2 separate regions of the Homo sapiens genome follow, and region 1 is linked to region 2. Evidence: fine-mapped expression QTL. Tissue or cell type: whole blood. Region 2 holds a variant in brackets; the other region holds the start of a gene. All regions are shown on one strand. Distances are from middle to middle.

What was found. PIP is the estimated chance that this variant, and not a neighbour inherited with it, causes the effect.
Region 1: SYTL1 starts here. The variant in region 2 is fine-mapped to the expression of SYTL1 in whole blood (TOPMed, PIP above 0.99).

The regions. Positions count from the first base shown.
Region 1 is chr1:27,338,534-27,346,634 of GRCh38, forward strand. It overlaps SYTL1 (synaptotagmin like 1), which reads left to right and starts at 3,489. Exons shown (of 15, transcript NM_001193308.2): 1 at 3,489-3,617; 2 at 6,764-6,992. The coding sequence starts at 6,802. RefSeq lists enhancers at 3,110-3,369, 3,900-3,949, 4,124-4,741, 4,740-4,829.
Region 2 is chr1:27,204,974-27,213,074 of GRCh38, forward strand. It overlaps the pseudogene NPM1P39 and the pseudogene SNRPEP7. Among named protein-coding and RNA genes, the nearest start is that of WDTC1-DT, 25 kb to the right of the region's middle. The variant A/G (reference allele first, on the strand shown) is at 5,068.

The DNA.
Region 1 (8,101 bases), 130 kb after region 2:
AAAGTCACCAACAGTTAGCGAGTGCTTACTCTGTGCTAGGCCTTGTAATAAAATACCATCTTAGCCTCACAACAGCCCTGCAACAAGGTAAGTGCCATCATCCCATTTTACAGATGAAGAAGTAAGCAGAGAAGTAGTGATTTGCTCCGGGTCACAGAGGTAGGAAGAGTGGAACTATGGTTCAAACCCAGCAGCTGGGCTCCAGAGCCCCCACTCAGAGCCACCCTGTGCGATGGCCTCACTGGAGCACAGGAGTGGAAATGAGAGGTGCTGTGATGCGAAAGGAGAATGGCCGCGGAGGTGAAAAACAAGCTCTCCTGACAGCAGCAGGCCTGTGAGATGGCTATTGTCCCCACTTCATAAAGGAAGAGAGTGAGGCTTACAGGGATTGTCATTGATCCCAGGCCACAGGGAACCATGCGGCAGAGCCAGATTTTAACCCAGATCTGCTGGCCTCTAGGACCCTGCCTCTTAATGTCCCTCTTAACAGAGGGATGTTGCCTAGAGACTGGCTGCAGCGCAGGGGCACTGAACTCTGGAGGAGGCTGAGCTAGTCCTGGAGCTGGGGAAAAGTATTCCCACAGGGAGCACAGAAGGCCCAGGGGTGTTGAAGGACAGGAAATAGCCCACAGCTAAGGCTCTACGGGTATAGGTGACGAAGGGGAGAAAGCCAGAGTAAGGGCAGCAATCCTGAGGGTCAGGCTGAGGGCCAGGCTGTCCTGGGAAGTGGTGAGACTTCCATCTCAGGACGTGTCTAAAGGGGACTGGACTGGTTTAGAAATGTATGAATGGGCCCGAGGGATGGCCTGGCTGTCTGCTGGCACCTTCCAAACCAGAGGATGACAAAGAAAAGTACGTTTGAAAGTTGTGCAACATAGGGCCAGAGTGGCCTTGTGTGGCCGCAAGGAGGCAGGAGAAGAGGAGGCTTCCAGAAGAGGCTGAGCGGGGACTGAGACCTGGGCAGGGGGAGGACAGCAGAGACACACAGATGGGAGGGCACCTGGAGTGAAGTGTGGACAGCATCTGGAGGTGGCAGGAAGCAGCAGGAGGCCAGGGGCCAGGATGATGGGGGCTGGTTACAGAGGTGGAAACTTGGAAATAGGTTTCAAGTGGGGAAGAGGCCAGAGGAATGCAGGTTGAGACACAGCAGGAGAGATGGCTGGAAGTATCAGCGTCAGGGAGTCACAGCTATAGGAAGGACAGGAGAGCAGAGAAAGGAAGGGAAATTTAGAAACCCGAAGACCAGATAATGAAGTTTCATGCCTTCCAGGAGGAAGAGCTGCTAAGGAGGTGAGAGGAGGGCAGAGAAACATCCTTGGGGGCGCCAGGACCAGGATGGCAGGAAGGGGTGTGGATGTTCTTGGCCACTCTCCTTCCATTTTGAGGGCCTTAATGAAGGAGGCAGCATCACAGTAATGGTCCCACAGCAGCTGCTCCATGGGTATTGCATGTGTGGGTGCATAAATGCATTAATCAAGAGTACTGGGGTCTGGGCAAGGTGGCTCACGCCTGTAGTCCTAGCACTTTGGGAGGCTGAGGCAGGCAGATCACATGAGACCAGGAGTTCGAGCCCAGCCTGTCCAACATGGTGAAACCCCATCTCTACTCAAAATACAAAAATTAGCCAGGCGTGGTGGCGGGCGCCTGTAGTGCCAGCTACTCGGGAGGCTGAGGCATGAGAATCACTTGAACCCAGGAGGCGGAGGCTGCAGTGAGCCAAGCCAGCCTGGGCGACAGAGCAAGACTCCATCTAAAAAAAAGAAAAAAAAAAGTCTGCAAGGATCTCACTGAATTTTAGTGAAAACCCTCTAAGGAGAGATTACCCCCATTTAACAGATGAGAAAAATAAGATTAATTTGCAAAAAATAAGTAGGGAAGCCTCCACTGTGGTTCTGAGGTGGAGGAGGGTCCTCTGTCTCTCAGTGGTGGTGGGAGTCGGTTCTGATTACAGGAAGGAAGAGTGGGTGTTTAGTTTTCTTTTCTTTTCTTTTCTTTTTTTTTTTGTGACGGAGTCTCGCTCTGTCGCCCAGGCTGGAGTGCAGTGGTGCGATCTCGGCTCACTGCAAGCTCCACCTCCCAGGTTCATGCCATTCTCCTGCCTCAGCTACTCGGGAAATAGCTGGGACTACAGGCAGCCGCCACCACGCCCAGCTAATTTTTTTTGTATTTTTAGTAGAGATGGGTTTTCACCGTGTTAGCCAGGATGGTCTTGATCTCCTGACCTCGTGATCCACCCGTCTCGGCCTCCCAAAGTGCTGGGATTACAGGTGTAAGCTACCACGCCCAGCCTTGTTTGCTTTTCTGAGACGGAGTCTCGCTGTGTTGCCCAGGCTGGAGTGCAGTGGTGCGATCTCGGCTCACTGCAACCTCCGCCTCCTGGGTTCAAGCGATTCTCCTGCCTCGGCCTCCCGAGTAACTGGGACTGCAAGCACCTGCCACCATGCCCGGTTAATTTTTGTATTTTGAGTAGAGACGGGGTTTCACTATATTAGCCAGACTGGTCTCAAACTCCTGTCCTAGAGTGATCCGCCCACCTCGACCTCTTAAAGTACTGGGATTACAGGCATGAGTCACTGTGCCCAGACTGGTTTTGTTTAGAATCCACCCCTTGTCCTGCCTCTCCCAGGGGTCTATGAGGAGCCCACTAATCTTTAATCCATGGCCCTAGGTTCAGGGGAGGGGGTTGGGCCAGGGCAGGCCATGGGAAGTGAAGTGGACTTGGGGGGAGTCAGAAAGCTTTGGTGTGGCCTCTTGTGCCCAAGACAACCCAGGAGGTTCATGGTCCTGAAGCCAATGTAATCTAGGGCCCAAACCTTCTAATCTCAGGGTGGGCAGAATCTAGGTGTAGAATGGGGTGAGTTCAGGGGGGCTCCACATAGACAGAGGGTGTGGGACCCTCACCTTGGCACTAGAAGAGTTCAGGCCTCCTCAAACAGATGGGGCTCAGGACAGCAGAGGGGACAGAGAGGGCTGCTCTGCCAGCATGTCCCAGAAGTGCATGTGGATATAGAGGGCAGCAGCTGCTGAGATGGCCGTGGGCATTAGGCTATGCTGGAGTGGGGACACCTCACCCCGACTATGCCAGCTCGCACCGGGCACTTTCACTTCCCTTAGTATAGGCTCCTTGCACTCTGCTACCCACAGTTTGCATCAGAAGAAATGGAAGAGACCTGCTTAAGGTCACATCACACACCCACTGGCAGAGCAGGGACTCTGCACAGGGTGGTCTAACTGCAAAGTCTGCCATCCTGCCATTCCCCTTGGGGCTGGAAAAGAAAGGTTTCTAACTTGCTTTCAAAGCGAGTTCCTATCAGCCCCGTTGTGGGCAAGGTGGGGCTGCTACCCGTTCTAGAGGGCCTGCTCAGTGGAGCTGGGGCCAAGCTGGGCCTCTCCAGTCGGCTGCGGGGGCGCACCCCCGGGCGCTGGGAGTCCAGGCCCGGTTTTGCATCAGGCCCTGCCGAGGTGTTTCCTCCTCCTCCGTGTGGGGCAGCTGCTGGCTGGGCTGCCTGTTGAGTCAGCCTTCTTCCCTCACGGCTCTTCTCCCGGTCCCTGAAACTCGGCTGCCAGGGGAGCTGGAGCCACCTGCGAAGGTGTCCTCCCATACTGGACCCCTACAGGTAACACGTGTCGGTGCCAGGGTCCCCTGCCAGGGTCCAGAGACGCAGGCACTGCCACCTGGTATCCTGAGCACCCTCCAGCACCTTGGGGTTGGGGGAGGTGGGCACATGTCTGGAACTGGAACAGCTGGACAGATGGACAGACCCTCCTCTTGACCAATGGGTCTGTCCCACCGTGTCAAAACAGCAGAGAAGACCAAACTCCTACCTAACTCTGGTAGGAGATTCTGCCTCTGGTTGGTAGGAGAGGGGACTTCAGGGAGGGGGCACTGCTGAGGACGCTGGGCTGATGCCCATGGCCCAGCTCAGGCAGGCCTGAAGGACAGAAATAGGCTCAGTTCTGCCGAACGTCCCCCCGGCCTCCATCCACACTCAGACACACACACCTGGTGGCCCCCAAGGCACCAGGGGACACCCCACAGCACACAGCCCAGTCACACATACAGCACAGGAGGAAATGCACAATGCATACTGTACACACCCCACACGGCGCTGTCACCTAGAAAGTCACTGAACACACCACACAGACAATATAGTCACCATGCAGCATCACACTGCAACAGGACACAAAGACACACAGCAACTACACAGCTCACAGACTCACGCAACGCAGACATGCCCACCAGACTCGGACCCACACAGCCACACAACAGGGCACAGAGAGGGACGTGGGCTCACACCCCAATCCACAGGGGAGGCCGAACGTGGGCTCACACCCCAATCCACAGGGGAGGCCGAACGTGGGCTCACACGTTGGCCACAGAAGTCCAGGGAAACTGCTGTTGTGGAGCACACAGGTATCCACAGAGTGAATGCACACCGTGCAGCCGTGCTGAGGCCTTCTGCTCCTGAGGGTGTCAAGAGGGATCGCTGGGGCTCGGCCACTGACTCAGCTGGGAGGGGACAGAGCATAGCAGGCGGCGGACACAAGCCAGGACCTGCCCGCCAAGCTGCCTCCGCCGGTCTCAGCCCCACCTGGAGCCGTGGCAATGGAAGGGGCGGGGAAGAGAGGAGAGGCCGCCCAGTGGGCTCAGGACACAGCCCTGACCAAGTCATGGGCCCCTTGCCACGTCTACATGCCCCTCAGCGCTGGGCAAATGCTTTCTTTCCGGAGTCACTGTGGTACCTGAGCATGGGCTGCTGCGCTAGCCTAGGCCTCCACCGCCGGGACCCCAGCCTGGTCTGGGGAGAACTGTGTGGCCAGAACAGAGGGGCCCTGTGGCTCCAGGCAACAGGGCAGGGCTGGCGGCGGGGGCATCCCTGGGTTGGAGGCCTCCGTGGGAGTGGGTGCGGCAGTTACCTCAGGAGAGGAAGTTGGGGGTGTGGGCTGAGGAGGAGGTTGCCTCAGACAGGAAGGCCAAGTGGGCCAGGGCAGGGTGGAGGTGGTGGCAGGAGGGGACCCAGGCTGTGAGGTTCCTGGTGCGGGGGAGTGAGCAGATGTGTGTGTGTGTACGTGTGTGTGTGTGTGTATCTGTCTGTCTAGGTGGGTGGTTGTATGTGTGCATTCCCATGTGTGTGCAGGCATATTTCTGCATTTAATTAATCAAACTTTTACCAACCATCTGTTGTGTGCAAAGTAATGGCTTTGAGGGTGACTCCCTCTCCCTGCCTCCAAGGAGCTCACAACCCAGTTAGCCGGGCAATGTATGTGTGCCAAAGTCTGTATGATTTTTATGTACATCTTTATCGAGGGACATATTTGTCCCCAGACTTGTTCTTGTCTAGGTGAACCCATCCGGGTGGGCCTATCCCCATTGGTGTGCATATGCTGTGTGCAGGTTTTTTTGTTAGTTTTTGTTTTGAGACGGAGTCTCACTCTTGCCCAGGCTGGAGTGCAGTGGCGCCATCTCAGCTCACTGCAACCTCCTTCTCTTGGGTTCAAGTGATTCTCCTGCCTCGCTTCCCAAGTAGCTGGAATTACAGGCATGTACCACCATGCCCAGCTAATTGTTCTGTTCTTTTCATTTTTTTTGGAGGAGTTTCACTCTTTTTGCCCAGGCTGGAGTGCAATGGTGTGATCTCGGTTTACCATAACCTCTGCCTCCCAGTTTCAAGCAATTCTCCCACCTCAGCCTCCCGAGTAGCTGGGATTAAAGGCATGCACCACCATGCCCGGCTAATTTTGTATTTTTAGTAGAGACGGGGTTTCTCCGTGTTGGTCAGGCTGGTCTCAAACTCCTGACCTCAGGTGATCTGCCCGCCTTGGCATCCCAAAGTGCTGGGATTACAGGGGTGAGCCACTGTATCTGGCCATAATTTTTGTATTTTTAGTAGAGAAGGGGGTTTCACCATGTTGGCCAGGCTGGTCTTGAACTCCTGACCTCAGGTGATCGGCCCACCTTGGCCTCCCAAAGTGTTGGGATTACAGGCGTGAGCCACCGCGCCTGGCCACTGTGTGCAGATTTAAGAACATGTGTAGGGCCGGGCGTGGTGGCTCACGCCTGTACTCCCAGCACTTTGGGAGGCTGAGGCTGGCAGATCATGAGGTCAGGAGTTCGAGGCCAGCCTGGCCAACATGGTCAAACCCCGTCTCTACTAAAAATACAAAAATTAGCTGGGCGTGATGGTGCGTGCCTATAATCCCAGCTACTCAGGAGGCTGAGGCAGGAGGTTTGAACCCGTCAGGCAGTGGTTGCAGTGAGATGAGATCGTGCCACTGTACTCCAGCCTGGGCAACAAAGCAAGACTCCTCAAAAAAAAAAAAAAAAAAAAAAAAAAGAATGTGTGTGCATGTCTCTCGTGGGCATGGGTCCGGGTCTGTGTCTGCAGAGGGCCCTTTCTGGGGGAACAGCTGTGCATGCGCCTGTCTTTATGCAGGTGTCTGTGTGCATGTGCGACCATATCTATGCCTACATGGACCCGCGTGTGCACATGTGTCTGTGTGTTCCATCGCTGCAGTCCTGTGTGGCCCTACCTCAGGGTGTGTGCATGTGTGTCTCTTGCTTCTTCCACTGTGTCTCCAAGTGTGTTCAAGGGCTAGTGTATGCATGTGTGCATGAGTGTCTCTCACCCCACCTTGAGCTCAGCCATCCTGGGGTGGCACCCTACCCATACCCGGCCAAGTGTTTGGGGAGAAAAGGGCTGTTGGTTCTAGGATGTGCCAAGCATTTGTGCAGGGCTTGACCTGACCCTCGGTCTGCCCCCAGGAAGCTCCGTGTGCCCAGCTGGGGCACAGCCCCAGCTGATGCCCCAGAGGGGCCACCCATCGCAAGAGGGGCTTTGGGCTCTGCCCTCCCTCCCCATGGCGCATGGGCCAAAGCCTGAGACTGAAGGACTGTTGGACCTCAGCTTCCTGACAGAGGAGGAGCAGGAGGCCATTGCTGGCGTCCTCCAACGAGATGCCCGCCTGCGCCAGCTGGAGGAGGGGCGGGTCAGGTAAGGCAGGGCAGACCCTGGCCGGGGAGCACCAAGAGGCTTGAGTGGCCCCCATCCTGCTCCCTACCGACACCACTGCCTGTCAGATGTCTGCGTGGTTCTTGGTTTTGCCCTTCAGTCTCCTCTGGCCTTGGCCAGCTCACAGCTCATCACTTCTCCAGGGGTGACTGCACCAGCTTTCTCGCCAGCCTCCCTGCCTCCAGGCTTGCCTCTTGGGCCCACCTCCTGCAGCTGGTGCTCCCCAGATCTGTCTGCTTTTTTTTTTTTTTCTTGAGACAGAGTTTCATTTTTTCGCCCAGGCTGGAGTGAAGTGGCACAATCTTGGCTCACTGCAACCTCCACCCCTCCGGGTTCAAGCGATTCTCCTGCCACAGCCTCCCAAATAGCTGGGATTATAGGCACATGCCACCATGCCCAGCTAATTTTTGTATTTTTAGTAGAGATGGGTTTTCGCCATGTTGGCCAAGCTGGTCTTGAACCTCTGATCTCAGATGATCCACCCGCCTCAGCCTCCCAAAGTGCTGGGATTACAGACGCGAGCCACCGTGCCTGGCCAGATCCGTCCTTAATATCCCCGCTGAAAACTTCCCCTGGCTCCCCAGTATCAAGGGCAAGCTCCTAGGCATGGTCCACTGGGCCTCCCTGGTCGGTCCTTGCCAGCCCCCACCATCTCCTCTTTCACCATAACTCCGACCCGACACACAGACACAAAGTGACCCCTCCAGCCACTCAGGTGCTCCCCAGTCCCTGAACCCACTCTTCACTTCTATGCCTATGCTGGTACTTCTTCCTGGAAGAGCACAGTTGTAGAAGAGCATGGGCGTTACAAGCAATGTTTGGGGACAGACACTTCCTAGCTACGTAGCCTTGGCAACTCACCTGACCTCCTTGAGCACCATGCTCGTCGTCTGTAAAATGGGGCTAAGGAGTCCTACTTCACTGATTTAAGAGGAATTGGCCAGAGATAGTGGCAACGCCTGTAATCCTAGCACTTTGAGAGGCTGAGACGGGAGGATTGCTTGAGCCCAGGAATTCAAGACCAGCCTGGACAACACAGTGAGACCCCATTCCTACAAAATATAAAAAATTAGCCTGGCGTGGTGGTGTGC
Region 2 (8,101 bases):
GCAGCTGGGACTACAGGCGTGCGCCACCATGCCCGGCTAATCTTCGTATTTTTAGTAGAGACGGGGTTTCACCATGTTGGCCAGGCTGGTCTTGAACTCCTGACCGCAGGTGATCTGCCCGCCTCGGCCTCCCAAAGTGCTGGGATTACAGGCGAGAGCCACCACTCCCGGCTAGGAATATTTTCAGAAATAATTCCCAAACCCTCAAGGATGGGTCCATCTCTTGCTGCATCCGAGCATTTGTGCCAGGCACTGTGGGGCAAAGCATTCGTCCACTCACTTCGTAAGTATTTACTGAGAGCATCCCATGCACACGTATCTACCAGGCTAGCTGCTGGAGATTCTATAGGCAGACCTGGTCGTGGCCTTCATGGGGCTCAGAGTATGGCAAAGCAGATAGTGGGGAAAAACATCACAACAGATGTGGTAAGTGTTACAAAAGGGAAGTAGAGGACACTGTGAGAGATTATGACTAGGGAACCAACCTAGCCCTGTTCAAGAAAGGCCTTCCTGGCCAGGCACGGTGGCTCATGTCTGTAATCCTAGCATTTTGGGAGGCGAAGATGGGTGGATCACTTGAGGTCAGGAGTTCGAAACCAGCCTGGCCAAATGGTGCAACCCATCTCTACTAAAAATACAAAAAAAAAAAAAAATTTAACGGGGCATGGTGGCGGGTGCCTGTAATCCCAGCTACTCGGGAGGCTGAGGCAGGAGAATTGCTTGAACCCGGGAGGCAGAGGTTGTGGTGAGCCAAGATCGCACCCCTGCACTCCAGCCTGGGTGACAGAGTGAGACTCCATCTAAAAAAAAAAAAAAGAAAGGCCTTCCTAAAGAAGAAGCATTTTAGCTGAGAGCTGCAGGATACTTAGGACTCAGCCAGGCAAAGAGAGGAAGTGTTCTAGTTATAATGGGTGCATACCAAATTTCTCCAATGCTTATTGGCATAAAACAGCCGTTTATTACAATCACGAGTTCCCTGGGTCAGGAATTCAGGCAAGACACCACAGGTGGCTTATCTCTGCACCAGTGTCTGGGGACTATCTGGAGCACTTAAAGGCAGAAACCTGGAATCATCTAAAGGTGGTGGTTGATGTCCGCTGTTGGCTAGGGGCCTCAGCTCCTCTGCACGTGGGCTTCTTTGAGTGATCGCTCCACGTGGGCCAGTTTGGGCTTCCTCAGCACAGGACTAGGTTCCAAGGGCAAACATCCCAAGAAAGAGACTCAGGCAGAAGTAGTATCACCTTTTATGACCCAACTTCAGTAGTCACTCGGCATTCTGTCTCCTGCATTCTAGTTGTTGAGGCGGTCAATAAGAGTCCCATTCCATTTCAAGGGGAGGGGAAACAAAAACAGACTCCATCTCTTGATGAGGAAGCGGCAAGATTCTGGAATAGCAGAAATATTGCCATGGCCGTTTTAGGAAAGCACAATCTACCACAGAGGGAAGAGTGTTTCAGTGTGGGAGAATGCTTCAGCAAAAATCTTCCGGTGAGAGAAGGCAGGGCCCACCCTAAGACAGAAAAGAAGCCTGGTAAGGCTAGCCAAGAGGAGACTGGTAGAAAATGAGGCTTACGAGGTCAAAAACCAACATCCTCATTCTTGGGCTGAGGAAGTGTATCATCTTAACAGCTATGGTGCCTCCCTTCTATTTAATGCTTTATAAGCGACAAAGCGATGCCTCAGTTCTTTCCTCATTTGTTTCAAACAACAGTCCTGTGAGGGACGTATGCTTAGCCCTATAAAGACGAAGAAACTAAGCATCAGTGACATGAAGTGGAAGGCAACACAGTGGGGCAGGACTACTCACAGCAATTTTAGGTGTCACATGGATAAACATTTTACATGTTAATAGTTAATGTCTCCTGGTATGATTCCATCCTGAGCGGCTGTTCTCTTGAGCAGCGTTCATTTATCTCCGTCTGCCTTCTGTCCCACCTAAGTGTGTGCCGCCACCCAATAGAAGATTCGATGGACATGGACATGAGCCCCCTGAGGCCCCAGAACTATCTTTTCGGTTGTGAACTAAAGGCTGACAAAGATGATCACTTTAAGGTGGATAATGATGAAAATGAGCACCAGTTATCTTTAAGAACGGTCAGTTTAGGGGCTGGTACAAAGGATGAATTGCACATTGTTGAAGCAGAGGCAATGAATTACAAAGGCAGTCCAATTAAAGTAACACTGGCAACTTTGAAAATGTCTGCACAGCCAACAGTTTCCCTTGGGGGCTTTGAAATAACACCACCAGTGGTCTTAAGATTTAAGTGTGGTTCAGGGCCAGTGCATATTAGTGGACAGCACTTAGTAGCTGTGGAGGAAGATGCAGAGTCAGAAGATGAAGAGGAGGAGGATGTGAAACTCTTAAGTATATCTGGAAAGCGGTCTGCCCCTGGAGGTGGTAGCAAGGTTCCACAGAAAAAAGTAAAACTTGCTGTTGATGAAGATGATGATGATGATGATGATGATGATGATGATGATTTTGATGATGAGGAAGCTGAAGAAAAAGTGCCAGTGAAGAAATCTATATGAGATACTCCAGCCAAAAATGCACACAAGTCAAATCAGAATGGAAAAGACTCAAAACCATCATCAGCACCAAGATCAAAAGGACAAGAATCCTTCAAAACACAGGAAAAAACTCCTAAAACACCAAAAGGATCTAGTTCTGTAGAAGACATTAAAGCAAAAATGCAAGCAAGTATAGAAAAAGGGGGTTCTCTTCCCAAAGTGGAAGCCGAGTTCATCAATTTTGTGAAGAATTGCTTCTGGATGACTGACCAAGAGGCTATTCAAGATCTCTGGCAGTGGAGGAAGTCTCCTTAAGAAAATAGTTTCAACAATTTGTTAAAAATTTTCCATCATATTTCATTTCTGTAACAGTTGATATCTGGCTGTCCTTTTTTTTTTTTTTTACTTTTGTTTGGCAATTGCAAAATTTATTTTATACAGAAAATATTTCACTTAATTTGAATAAAATCTTTTTTTCCATTAAAGTTTTTTTTAATTTTATTACTATTATACTTTAAGTTTTAGGGTACATGTGCACAACGTGCAGGTTTGTTACATATGTATACATGTGCCATGTTGGTGTGCTGCACCCATTACCTCGTCATTTAGCATTAGGTATATCTCCTAATGCTATCCCTCCCCCCTGCCCCCACCCCACCACAGTCCCCAGTGTGTGACGTTCCCCTTCCTGCGTCCATGTGTTCTCATTGTTCAATTCCCACCTATGAGTGAGAACATGCGGTGCTTGGTTTTTTGTCCCTGCGATAGTTTGCTGAGAATGATGGTTTCCAGCTTCATCCATGTCCCTACAAAGGACATGAACTCATCATTTTTTATTGCTGCATAGTATTCCGTGGTGTATATGTGCCAGATTTTCTTAATCCAGTTTATCATTGTTGGACATTTGGGTTGGTTCCAAGTCTTTGCTGTTGTGAATAGTGCCACAATAAACATACGTGTGCATGTGACTTTATAGCAGCATGCTGCTATAAAGTCACATGGCTGTCCTTTTTATAATGCAGAGTGAGAACTTTCCCTACCGTGTTTGATAAATGTTGTCCAGGTTCCATTGCCAAGAATGTGTTGTCCAAAATGCCTGTTTAGTTTTTAAAGATGGAACTCACCCTTTGCTTGGTTTTAAATATGTATGGAATGTTATGATAGGACATAGTAGTAGCGGTGGTCAGACATGGAAATTGTGGGAAGACAAAAATATGCCTGTGAAATAAAACTCAATATTTTAATAAAGTAAAAAAAAAAAAAAAAGTTAATGTCAGGCCAGGTGCGGTGGCTCATGCCTGTAATCCCAGTACTTTGAGAGGCCATGACGGGTGGATCACCTGAGGTCAGGAGTTCGAGATCAGCCTGGCCAACATGGTGAAACCCCATCTCAACTAAAAATACAAAAATTAGCCGGGCGTGATGGTGGGTGCCTGTAATCCCAGCTACTTAGGAGGCTGAGGCAGGAGAATCGCTTGAACCTGGGAGGCGGAGGTTGCAATGAGCTGATATTGAGCCACTGCACTCCAGCCTGGGCAACACAGCGAGACTCTGTCTCAAAAAAAACAATAACTTGTACAACTTGCGACCTGTGTCCTGTGAGCTGCATACGGCCCACAATGGCTTTGAATGCGGCCCAACACAAATTCATAAATTTTCTTAAAATATTATGAGATTTTAGGCCAGGCACGGTAGCTCATGCCTGTAATCCCAGCACTTTGGGAGGCCAAGGCAGGCGGATCACGAGGTCAGGAGTTCGAGACCAGCCTGGCCAAGATGGTGAAACCCCGTCTCTACTAAACATACAAAAAATAGCCAAGTGCAGTGGCAGGCGCCTGTAATCCCAGCTACTCGGGAGGCTGAGGCAGGAGAATCACTTGAACCCAGGGGGCAGAGATTGCAGTGAGTTGAGATCACACCACCGCATTCCAGCTTGGGTGACAGTTTTTTGTTTTTGTTTTTGTTTTTTAAGCTCATCAGCTATCATTAGTGTATTTTAGTTAGTGTTTAGTTTAGTTAGTGTGGCCCAAGACAATTCTTCTTCTTCCAGTATGGCCCAGGAAGCCAAAAGATTGGATGCCCTGGTAGAAGGTCTGTGACTATGGTCATAATGATAAAGATGGAAGGTAAATGAGGAGCGTTTAAGAAATACTGGCAAAGGATTCAGCGCCTGGGATCTGGAACGAGAGCAAATCCTGGCTAGTTTCCAAAAGTAAACATCCCAACAAAGACCCAGGCAAGTTATTTAGCTTCCCTGTGCCTCAGTTTTCTCATCTTTAAAATGAAAATAGGCTGGGCATGGTGGCTCATGCTTGTAATCCTAGCACTTCGGAAGGCCAAGGTAGGAGGATTGCTTGAGACCAGGAGTTCGAGACCAGCCCTGGCAACATAGCGAGACCCTTGTCTCTATACAAAATTTAAAAAATAAATTATGGCCAGGTGCACTGTCTCATGCTTGTAATCTTTTGGGAGGGCAAGCCAAGAAGATCACTTGAGCTCAGGAGTTTGAGATCAGCCTGGGCAACATTGTGAGACTCCTTTTCTAAAAAAAGAAAAAAA[A/G]AGAGAGAAAAAGAAAGTTAAAAAAAAAAAAGGCCAGGCATCATAGCACACACCTGTAGTCCTAAGCTACTCAGGAGGCTAAGTTGGAGCGATCGCTTGACCCCAAGAGATCCAGGTGGCAGAGCCATGATTACACCACTGCACTCCAGCCTGGGTGACAGAGGGAGAGAGAGACTCTGTATCAAATAAATAAATAAATAATAAATAAATAAAATGAAAATAATTATATTACCTCCTTTCATAGGGTTGTCATGAAGACTAAATTAGTTGATATTTGTATAGTGCCTACAATAGTTCTTGGCACTTAGTAAGTTCTGCATAAGTGTTTGTTAAATAACTAAATTAAATTAACTGACTTAAGCATAAAAGGGAATGTCCTGGCTCTTCTAACTAAAAAGTTCATGGGTATCTGTCTTCAGGGTGGATCTGAGAGCTCAAAGTTTGTCATCAGCTCTCTCTATCTCTCTCCTTTGCTCCCTCCTGCACCTCCCACCCTGCAACATCGCAGCTCTGCTCTGCGTTGATCTGTCCTCAGGTGACCTCCCACCCAGCATTGGCAAGGTGGCTACGGTAGCTCCAGGGTTATATCCTCATAGCTACCAGCCCAGAGGAAAGAGATACCTCTTTGCCATTGTTGTAGGAAACTTACATATGCAGCCTAGAATCCAGGAGGTGAAGCCAAGTTCCCCAAACCTCGTGGACTGAATGTGTGGGAGGCATGGACCCTTAAGGAAAATCCAGGTGTTCTTCAAAGAAGAAAAGAGATCAGATGCTGGATAGAAAAACAAGCTAACAAAAATTTGAAGTCTGGGACTGGGCATGGTGCCTCAGCACTTTGGGAGGCTGAGGCAGGAGGATCGCTTGAGCCTAGGAGTTTAAAACCAGCCTGGGTAACATAGCAAGACCCCATATCTATAAAAAACAAAACAAAACAAAACAAAAAAAGAAAGAAAGAAAGAAAATAAAGTCCACTATACTACGTAACTTTGTAAATTATCTTAGCTCTCTGAGCCTCAGTTTCCTTGTATGTAAATGACAATCCATGACGGTGCCCACACAATAAAACCGTGGTAAGGATTAAATGAGTTAAACATCTATTACTGACGTTTAGCACCATACCAGGCAAACAGTAAGTACTCAAGAAATGTTAGTTATTATTCTGGAAGTTGCTCTCTGAGGTAGCGTGTGGGTCAGTGTCCTCTTTGTGAGATTTCATTTCGGTGTACCGCAGCCAGGGCCAGAAAGTGCAGAAGGTTATGGTACAGCCCATCAACCTCTCTTCAGATATTTACAAAACAGATCCCGGATTCAGGTATGGCTCTATGAGCAAGTGAATATGCGGATAGAAGGCTGTATCATTGGTTTTGATGAATATATAAACCTTGTATTAGATGATGCAGAAGGGATTCATTCTAAAACAAAGTCAAGAAAACAACTGGGTTGATATTTCTTTTTTTTCTTTTCTTTTTTTTTTTTTTGAGACGGAGTTTCGCTCTTGTTGCCCAGGCTGGAGTGCAACGGTGCAATCTCAGCTCACCACAACCTCCGCCTCCTGGGTTCAAGCGATTCTGCTGCCTCAGCCTCCCGAGAAGCTGAGATTACCAGTGTGCGCCACCACACCCGGCTAATTTTGTATTTTTAGTGGAGATGGTGTTACTCCATGTTGGTCAGGCTGGCCTCGAACTCCCAATCTCAGGTGATCTGCCCGCCTTGGCCTCCCAAAAAGTGCTGGAATTACAGGCGTGAGCCACCACGCCCGGCCTAGACTTTCTATCATCTTCTTCTAACAGCAATCCCTCTTCTCTGTGTAGTATTTTACGGTATACAAAGAGACTTCACCTGCATTTTTAAAATTTGATCCTCACAATAACATTCTAACTTTTTGCAAAGGTTACACAGTTGGAGAACTGGAAACTCAAGGAACCATGCATCCATCCACTTCCTCCACAAATATGAAGTGTATACCACATTCTGTGGGGAATGGCTCCTCCTCATGCTCCAGCTTCCTTCCATATTTCCACTCATCTATACCCTAGAGCAGGGTTTTTCAAGTTGCAGGTCATTATTCATTAGCAGGTCATGAAATCAATTTAGTGAGCCATTATCAGCAATTTAATTTTTTTGACGAAATAGAAAACACCCGGTGCATCCCAAATAGTGCACCAGAATACCGTTTTGTGAGACTCTTATTCAATTACACATCTGCATATATACGTGGATACTGGGTCACAATGTAAAATGGATTTCTCTTTGTAAGACATTGTTAAAGAGGTCGAAAACTGTTGACTAGCAGAGCATCTGAAACTTTGTGGTCCCAAGACCCCTTTACAATCTTAAAAATTATTGAGAACCCTCCAAAAATGTCTGTTTTTTGTAGATTATGTCTATTGATATTTACCATACTGGAATTAAAACTGAAAAAATTTCACAGGAATACTCAGGCACAGATACCATTAGTCATGAGATTGATATAATCACTTGTCTTGTAGCCTCTGGAAAACTCCACTGTACCTTCATGAGAGAACCACTGTGGAAAAGGCAAATAACTTTTTAGCACTATTATGGATATTGTTTTGACTTTGCAGACCCACTGAAAAGGTCTTGGAGGAATGGACTACAGGACATCTTTGTCTAAATGTTTCTGCCAAATTTCTTTTCTTTTTTTTTTTTTTTTGAGGCGGAGTCTTGCTCTGTTGCCCAGGCTGGAGCGCAGTGGTGCAATCTCAGCTCACTGCAAGCTCCACCTCCCAGGTACACACCATTCTCCTGCCTCAGCCTCCCGAGTAGCTGGGACTACAGGTGCTCACCACCATGCCCAGCTAATTTTTTTTTGTATTTTTAGTAGAGACAGGTTTTCACCGTGTTAGCCAGGATGGTCTCGATTTCCTGACCTCGTGATCTGCCCACCTTGGCCTCCCAAAGTGCTGGGATTACGGGCTTGAGCTACCGTGCCCGGCCCAAATTTCTAATTCACCCTTTCCAAAGCAAACTCATCATCTTCTTTTCCAAACCAATAGATTCTCACAGGGTCCAC